2 linked regions of the Homo sapiens genome follow. The protein of the gene in region 2 interacts with the protein of the main gene of each other region in a pairwise test. Each region holds a gene or a part of one and is shown on either strand. Other genes may lie near its edges. The genes, in order: MMP9 and VCAN.

What was found.
Region 1: the proteins of VCAN (region 2) and MMP9 interact in binary tests that used the Homo sapiens proteins (3 or more experiments, as listed by UniProt).

The regions. Positions count from the first base shown.
Region 1 is NC_000020.11:46,006,802-46,010,926, reverse strand, and holds the start of MMP9 (matrix metalloproteinase-9 preproprotein), read right to left. Parts: upstream 2,020-4,125; 5' UTR 2,001-2,019; coding exon 1,863-2,000; intron 1,062-1,862; coding exon 829-1,061; intron 445-828; coding exon 296-444; intron 6-295; coding exon 1-5. UniProt on the Homo sapiens protein: Matrix metalloproteinase that plays an essential role in local proteolysis of the extracellular matrix and in leukocyte migration. Could play a role in bone osteoclastic resorption. Cleaves KiSS1 at a Gly-|-Leu bond.
Region 2 is NC_000005.10:83,474,744-83,478,343, reverse strand, and holds part of VCAN (versican core protein isoform 1 precursor), read right to left. Parts: intron 1-3,600. UniProt on the Homo sapiens protein: May play a role in intercellular signaling and in connecting cells with the extracellular matrix. May take part in the regulation of cell motility, growth and differentiation. Binds hyaluronic acid.

The sequences.
Region 1 (4,125 bases), on a different chromosome or scaffold from region 2:
GTGCTCTGAAGAAACAGGTCGAGAGGAAGAGGGTTAGCCGAGTACTGCTGCGCAGATTGTGCGCTGCCCAAGGCAAGGGCTCCGAAATAAGTGCGGGCTGAAATCCCGCCTGCGCGAAGCTCTCCCAGCCTGGCGCCCTGGCCCTGTGCACTGTCTGGCAGGAGGGGCCGTATAAGCCAGGGCAGCGCGGGCAGGCAAGAGGAAGCCGGGGCCACTGCTGCCTCCACGCTCTCCGTGGTCCTCCCTTCCCTGACCCCGCCCAGGTCTCTTGGATTTTCCCTCCTCACGTTCTCACCCGCGACACCAAACTGGATGACGATGTCTGCGTCCCGGCTGTACACGCGAGTGAAGGTGAGCGGCGTCACCGCGCTCCACAGTGCGAAGGCGCGGGCAAAGGCGTCGTCAATCACCGCCCGCGGCAAGTCTTCCGAGTAGTTTTGGATCCTGTAGCGTAAGAGCCAGAGGAAGGAGGTCAGAAGTGAAAGGCTGGAGCGGGGCAGCAGGGACACCCCATATCGCAGAGACTTCAACATACACAATGCTCTCTGCCGTCCACGCTCTCATCTATAAATTGCTTCCAGACTGTTTTTTTTTTTTTTTTTTTTGTCTACTTAGACCCTCACAATGGCCCTGGCAGGAGGACTTGGATTGCAAGAGCCATTTCCCTGAAGGAGAAACAGAGGCTCAGAGGTGGGGACACTCCCCAGGGGCCACACATTAAATAGTGAAACCCAGGGACGCGTCCAAGACAGGACATGTTCACCGCTGGCCCAAGAGCCAGACCTGGCCTCCCCGCCCCACCCCGCTGCCCCCACGGCCCCGGCTCACCAATAGGTGATGTTGTGGTGGTGCCACTTGAGGTCGCCCTCAAAGGTTTGGAATCTGCCCAGGTCTGGGACCCCGCACCGTGGGGTTCGCATGGCCTTCAGCGTGGCGCTATCCAGCTCACCGGTCTCGGGCAGGGACAGTTGCTTCTGGAGAAGCAGCAGCGCAGGCCCCAGAGATTTCGACTCTCCACGCATCTCTGCCACCCGAGTGTAACCATAGCGGTACAGGTATTCCTGTGGATGAAGGGACACACACATGCCAGATCTCTGACCCCTTTCTCTGCCCAGCTGGGGCCAAAGGACTCCCTCCAGACACTCATGGAGGGAGTCTTTTTTCTTTTTCTTTTTCGGAGAGACGGTATCAGCCCACTGCAGCCTGGACCTCCTGGACTCAAGCGATCCTCCCATCTCAGCCTTCTGCATAGCTGGAACTACAGGTGCACATCACTGTGCCTGGCTATTTCTTTAATTTTTTTGTAGAGACAGGATCTTACTATGTTGCCTAGGCTGGGCTCAAACTCCTGAGCTTCAGCGATCCTACCACCTCAGCCTCCCAAAGTGCTGGGATTACAAGTGTGAGCCGTCATGCCCAGCAGGGACTAACATTTAATAAAGCATTAAATGCTTTCCAGACACCAGTGCTTTCTGACCACCCAGGGATCTCCCCTCCTTAGACATCCTCAGCTCCTTCTCACCCCTGGATGCCTCTAGCCCATTTCTACCCCACAGCTGCATAAGGTTTGCCCCTGTTCACTCCCAGCCTATGCTTACCCCAGAACCCTCCAATGCCTCCCCCACCCCAAACCATTTCCCATTTCCCACCTAGGAAAGCCCCATTGCCCATTTCTGGCCATCACTGCTCAAAGCCTCCACAAGACCCCCCACTGCCTAACCCTGGACACCTCTGTTCTTCAGATACGCCCATCACCACCAACACACCCCTAAAGCATCTCCTCTGAGGCCCTGCATCCTCTCTGGGACACTCAACACCCTCACGGACAGCCCTCCCCAACTCTAGACTAGGTGTTTGCCCACCTCTGCCAGCTGCCTGTCGGTGAGATTGGTTCTCAGGTCTCCAGGGAAGAGCACAAGGGTGGACTGGCGCTGTCTGGGGGCAGCAAAGCAGCAGCCCAGCACCAGGAGCACCAGGACCAGGGGCTGCCAGAGGCTCATGGTGAGGGCAGAGGTGTCTGACTGCAGCTGCTGTTGTGGGGGCTTTAAGGAGGCGCTCCTGTGACCCCACCCCTCCTTGACAGGCAAGTGCTGACTCAGGGGTCAGGGTGTGTGTGTGTGTGTGTGTGTGTGTGTGTGTGTGTGTGTGTGTGTGGCAGCACCAGCATGAGAAAGGGCTTACACCACCTCCTCCTCTCTCCACTGCCCGCAGTCTCCACTGCCAAGTCAGGCAAGACCCCAGACCCGCAGGAAACCGCAGGCCCTCAGGGGAGGGGTAGGGTTTTGCAAACTGCAGAGCTTGTGGGAACTGTATGAAAGGGAGGGAGGGGGATGAAGCTGGAGGGATCCCCCATCCCTTGGTCTGAAAGCCTCCAGTGGTCAGCCAAGGGAAAGTGATGGAAGACTCCCTGAGACTTCTTTCTGAAACTAATGATCCCCCTGGCCCATCCTTGGCCTTTTGCAACACCCCCTCCCAGGTCAGATATCCTCCCCAAACCCCTCCCCACACTCCAGGCTCTGTCCTCTTTTTCCCTCCCTGACAGCCTTCTTTGACTCAGCTTCCTCTCCCTGCTTCATCTGGGGGCGGAAGGAATGGGCTCTGCTAGGCAAGGCTGGGGAATTCCACTGGGGCAACCCCCTGTCTTCCGCAGGCTGAATCTTCAGGGCAGTAAAGGGGACAGTAGCAGCCTCTAGAAAACAGCAGACATGGCTTTACTCTCTTCCTTCAGGACCTCGGGCAAATGTCTTACCACTTTGAAGTGTTTCCTCAGCTGTAAAAAAAAAAACGGGGGGTGGGGGGCTCTTTGTCCCTAAATTGATGTGAGGATTAAATGAGATCAAACATATAAAATGTTTAGAACACTGTAGGTTGTAAGTCCGCAACGGATGGTGGTGATTGGTTTTAATTACTAAGGCCAAGACCCAAGATTCAGGGCCAGGTATGGTGGCTCATTCCTGTAATCTTAGCACTTTGGGAGGCCGAGGTGGGAGGATTGCTTGAGCCCAGAAAGAAGGTCAAGGATACAGTGAGCCATGATTATGTCACTGCACTCCAGCCTGGGCAACAGAGCGAGACCCTGCCAAAAGACCATGATTCTAACTTGGAATCACCAAACCAGGTTATTGGGCTCTAAGCTGCAGTGTAACCTGGAGTAAATGCCTTCCCCTTTGTCAGCTTAGGATTCTTCAACTGCAAATTGGGGCAGGATATGGGGGAAAATAATCTATAGGAGCCCTTTCAGTTCTCCAGCCCTGCTCCATGCAGCCAAATCTCCAGCCCCAATTATCACACTTATGCCAAGCCTCCCTCCCAAGCCTCCCACACCAGCAGCCTCCCTCACTCCTTTCTTCCTAGCCAGCCGGCATCGGGCAGGGTCTATATTCACCTTCTTCAAAGCCCTATTTGGGAAAAACCTGCTAACAACTCAAAAAGTTGTATTTATTTATTTTATTTTATTTTTGGGGGGTGTAGTATCACTCTGTCACCCAGGCTGGAGTGCAGTGGCGTGATCTCGGCTCACTGCAACATCTGCCTCCCGGGTTCAAGCAATTCTCCTGCCTCAGCCTCCCGAGTAGCTGGTATTATAGGCGTGCGCCACCACGCCTGGCTAAATTTTTTGTATTTTTAGTAGAGATGGGGTTTCACTACGTTGACCAGGCTGGTTTCGAACTTCTGACTCAAGTGATCTGCCCACCTGGCCTCCCAAAGTGCTAGGATTACGGGCATGAGCCATGGCGCCCGGCCCAATAAGCTGTATTTAAAGGGCCTACTATGTGCCAGGCATTTTATATGCTTATCTAATAAATGAGACTGTGAGATGGAGATAATTAACTTCCTTTACAGAAAAGTTGAAGTTCTAAAGTTCACTAACCAATGAACATCTGCTTTGCAGTCACGAAGTCCTGGATTTCCATCCCGGCTCTGCCATTTTCCAGCTATGTGACCTTGGGCAAGTCACTTTACCTCTGAACCATAATAATAATAATGCATTTTTTGAGATTTACTGTGTCAAGCACCGTAATAAGTTCTCTATAAGCCTCTCGTTTCATCCTCACCACCTGTAAGGTAAGTTTAATGAGTATCCCTCCTGTTTTCAGAGGGGGAAACTAAGGCTCAGAGAGTTAA
Region 2 (3,600 bases):
GAGGAACCTATTTACTTTCATACAACAGTATATGAGAGACCCAGTTTCTCCACAACCTGGCCAACACAAACTTGCATCAAACTTTTTAATTTTATTTTTGCCAGGCACAGTGGCTCATGCCTGTAATCCCAGCACTTTGGGAGGCTGAGGTGGGTGAATCACTTGAGGTCAGGAGTTCAAGATCAACTGCCATGGCCAACATGGTGAAACCCCACTCTACTAAAAACACGAAAATTAGCCAAGCATGGTGGTGGGTGCCCATAATCCCAGCTACTAGGGAGGCTGACACAGGAGAATTGCTTGAACCTGGAAGGCGGAGGTTGCAGTGAGCTGAGATCGTGCCACTGCACTCCAACCTGAGTAACAGACTCCATCTCAAAAAAAAAAAAAAAGAAAAAAATTATTTTTTTTTGTTACTCCTCTGATTGGTGAAAAAATGGTGTAGCATATCATTGGTGTTTTAATTACTATTTATTTAATTACAGATGAGGCTGAGCGATTTTTTCTATAATTTTAAAACTCTATGTCTCTTTCTGCCACTACCTGTACATAATTTTTGCTCATATTTTGATAGATGTGGACTTTTCAAAGTTATTCATAAAAGTCCATGGAATATCAAGAGTTATTAGCTTTTTGTCTCTCAAATGTCGTAGATGTTTTCCAAATATATTATTTGCTTTTGTGTAATTTTTACTTAGTCAGACCTATCAGTATTTCCTAGAATGGCACTGGGTTTTATGTTTTGCTTAGAACAGGTTTCTCTATTCCTAACTTATTTTTTTTAATCCCATGATTTTCTTTTATCATTTTGTAAAAAGTTATTCCCTACATTTCATATTTGATTCATCTTATATTTCTTTTAGGATGAGAAATCAGGTAGAGACTGATTCTTATTTTGCATGGACCCATCAATTGTCCTGAAACCATTTATTGAATAATTCTTCCTTTCCACTGAATGTCCAACTTCATTGGAGTCAATTTCTGTAACCTGTCTTCTGATTAATGAAACTAAACAATTTTTAAAACAATATGCCCCTCTCTGATTTATTTTATAGATTCAGTAGAAACTACATGGCTTGGGTAATGCAGTTATTATTAAAATTATAGAATTAGATCAATATGAATCCCAAGACATAATATATTATCATCCCTTTTTTGTATAGTTTTTCAAAGTACTTACTCTTTTGATCTTTATAACTGCATATTCATTTAATAGATTATGACACTAAAGGTCCAAAAGTAATATCTTTGCTTGGTTTTCTCAGCTAGTGAGTCCAACTCAAACTTTCTGATTCCAAGTCTAGTGCTCATTCCACTATACCTCAAGTAATATCAAATCAATAATTTAATAATAAAAAGATTATAATTTATCAAATATGTTTATTGTAAAATATGTAATCTCATTTTATAGACATAAACACCTCTTAAAATCCTTAGAAGAATGAGGTAGGATGTATACAGATGTGGAAAGTATATACATTTGTATCCTTTTATAGTTGGTAAATCTACCCAGAGGTGTGTTTCAGGAAACAGAACTGACACATTAAACAAAGATTCTCTGTACTGACCTCTGAAATACAACCACCTCTAACACATTCAATGGTAAGAACTTAGCAGTGTTTAAAAACCCTGTATACATACACACACACACGCACCCCCCACACACACACAGACTTTATATATATGTAATTTACCAAGTCTAGGCTACAAGAGGAAACTGGCAAAAATTCACTAATTGAAATGGAGCTTGGCCAAGACATCCATATCTAATCCCCCTTTTCTGATTCCAAATCAGGGAGAGTACATGCTTTGTGTTTTCTGGTAAAATACAGACCTATGTAACAATCAGCATATTTTCTCAGACCAGAGCAAGTAACTCCCAACAATGAGTGTTTGTCAGTCCTAACTGGTTTCTCTACGTGGGTGGTGAAAAAATACCTTACTACAGTCATTAATTCTTTCTTTCAAAAGAACCATGTGTCTTGAGAAGTTCTGCTCCATCACAGGGCAATATCCCATTTTAAATACAGTGTTTACCGATGTTTGTCCATGAATGACGTCAACAAAAATGTTTAAATCTCACCAGGAAAGGAGGGCTTAGTTGCCAGACTTTGGGAGACAGAGTTAGTTGATCTTTGCGCTCTCAAAGGCTCTGTTACTCAATTAAGTGACCAATCATTAACTCCAAAGTATTTAAGCCTAATAATACAACAAAAGAGAGAACAATGGGTAGTATCTTTAACATTAATCATGGTCACCTTTGGTTTAGCTGTTTAGGTCCTTTCCTAGCAGAATTTACAAGTGTATAGATACAGGTATTCTGGAATATCAAAGGCATCTCCCTCCAGTTTGCAAACACAGGGAAAAAGAAGAAACTTACATCTGTAAACCTATGTAAATCTAGGGGGATTCCTTTCAAACCTCGTTTTTTTGAAAGCAGGAAATACAATTTAAAACCAACTCTGTTTTTATCTACCAAAAGAATCAAAACTTTGAATTCTGACATAAATCCTAAATGATTGTCTTGAATCTCATCCCGCTTCCTACCTAATCTTCTCACAAGAAGATTAAGGACTGTGGACTTGGTGCTGGAGGAAGTAATTGCTCAATCACATTGGAATCCATTGGAACCCTTTACAATATTACTGCGGGCAGACAATACAATTCTAACATATTTCTTTCTTTACTCAGAGCTCAGAACAAGAAGTCAGACTCTTGGAGACCTTCTCCCTGATGTACTGCTCTTAACATTTCCAAGTTACAAACTGGGAACCGCTTCTATCTCAGAACACTAATTGTTGCTTCCATTGGTACCTTCCTATTTTTATATTACACTCACAACATCCTATTTTAGGACTTTATGTGAATATTTTCAGGATGGGTTTGGCGAAATTGTCAAGAAGTGCTTAAAACAATTAGGTCACAGCTTTCAGCAGACAAAAAGAAAAAGACGTGGCTGTTAGCTACAGAATCTGAGGTGATGGAAAAGATCTTTAAAATCCAGTTCTTCCAATATGCAGCAAAATGGGAGGACTTAAAATGCAGCTCTAAGAAGCACCGTCTCGTCTGCACCAAGCTTCTCCAGGTTTCCAGCTCAGTCACTCCCTAAATAGGTGCTGAGCTTCCAGTCCCCGCCAGGTCCCCGCTAAGGTTCCTCATTGAGGCACAGGAACCTCAGTTACACTCGCAGCCCTTCCATGTTTGCCCCCATGAAATTCTATTAGTCTTGTCGAATGGCAGTATTTGCCATTCCAGGCGAACTCTTTATGACAGTCTGGAACGAAATTAATCTGTTAATTGACTAAGAATGGGCTTTAGAGTGACCTGAATGTATTTAAAAAGTCAACAAATGGAATACGGTATAAAGTCTCATTTTTCTGACAAAAAGTTTGCTTGGAGTAAATTTTAACCTCTCCCCTGCCTCAAAACAAAAGCACGATGCCCCTCCTACCACTCCCAAGAAGCAAGCAAAAATAAAATAAAATAAAATAAAACTTAAATAGCCTTTTAATAAGAGTGTTCAGCGCTGTCTGGATGGAACTCGGGTCAGCTCCAGAAGCAGCCGGCCCCGAATCCTGGGGGCGAGGCCACTCGGCTCTC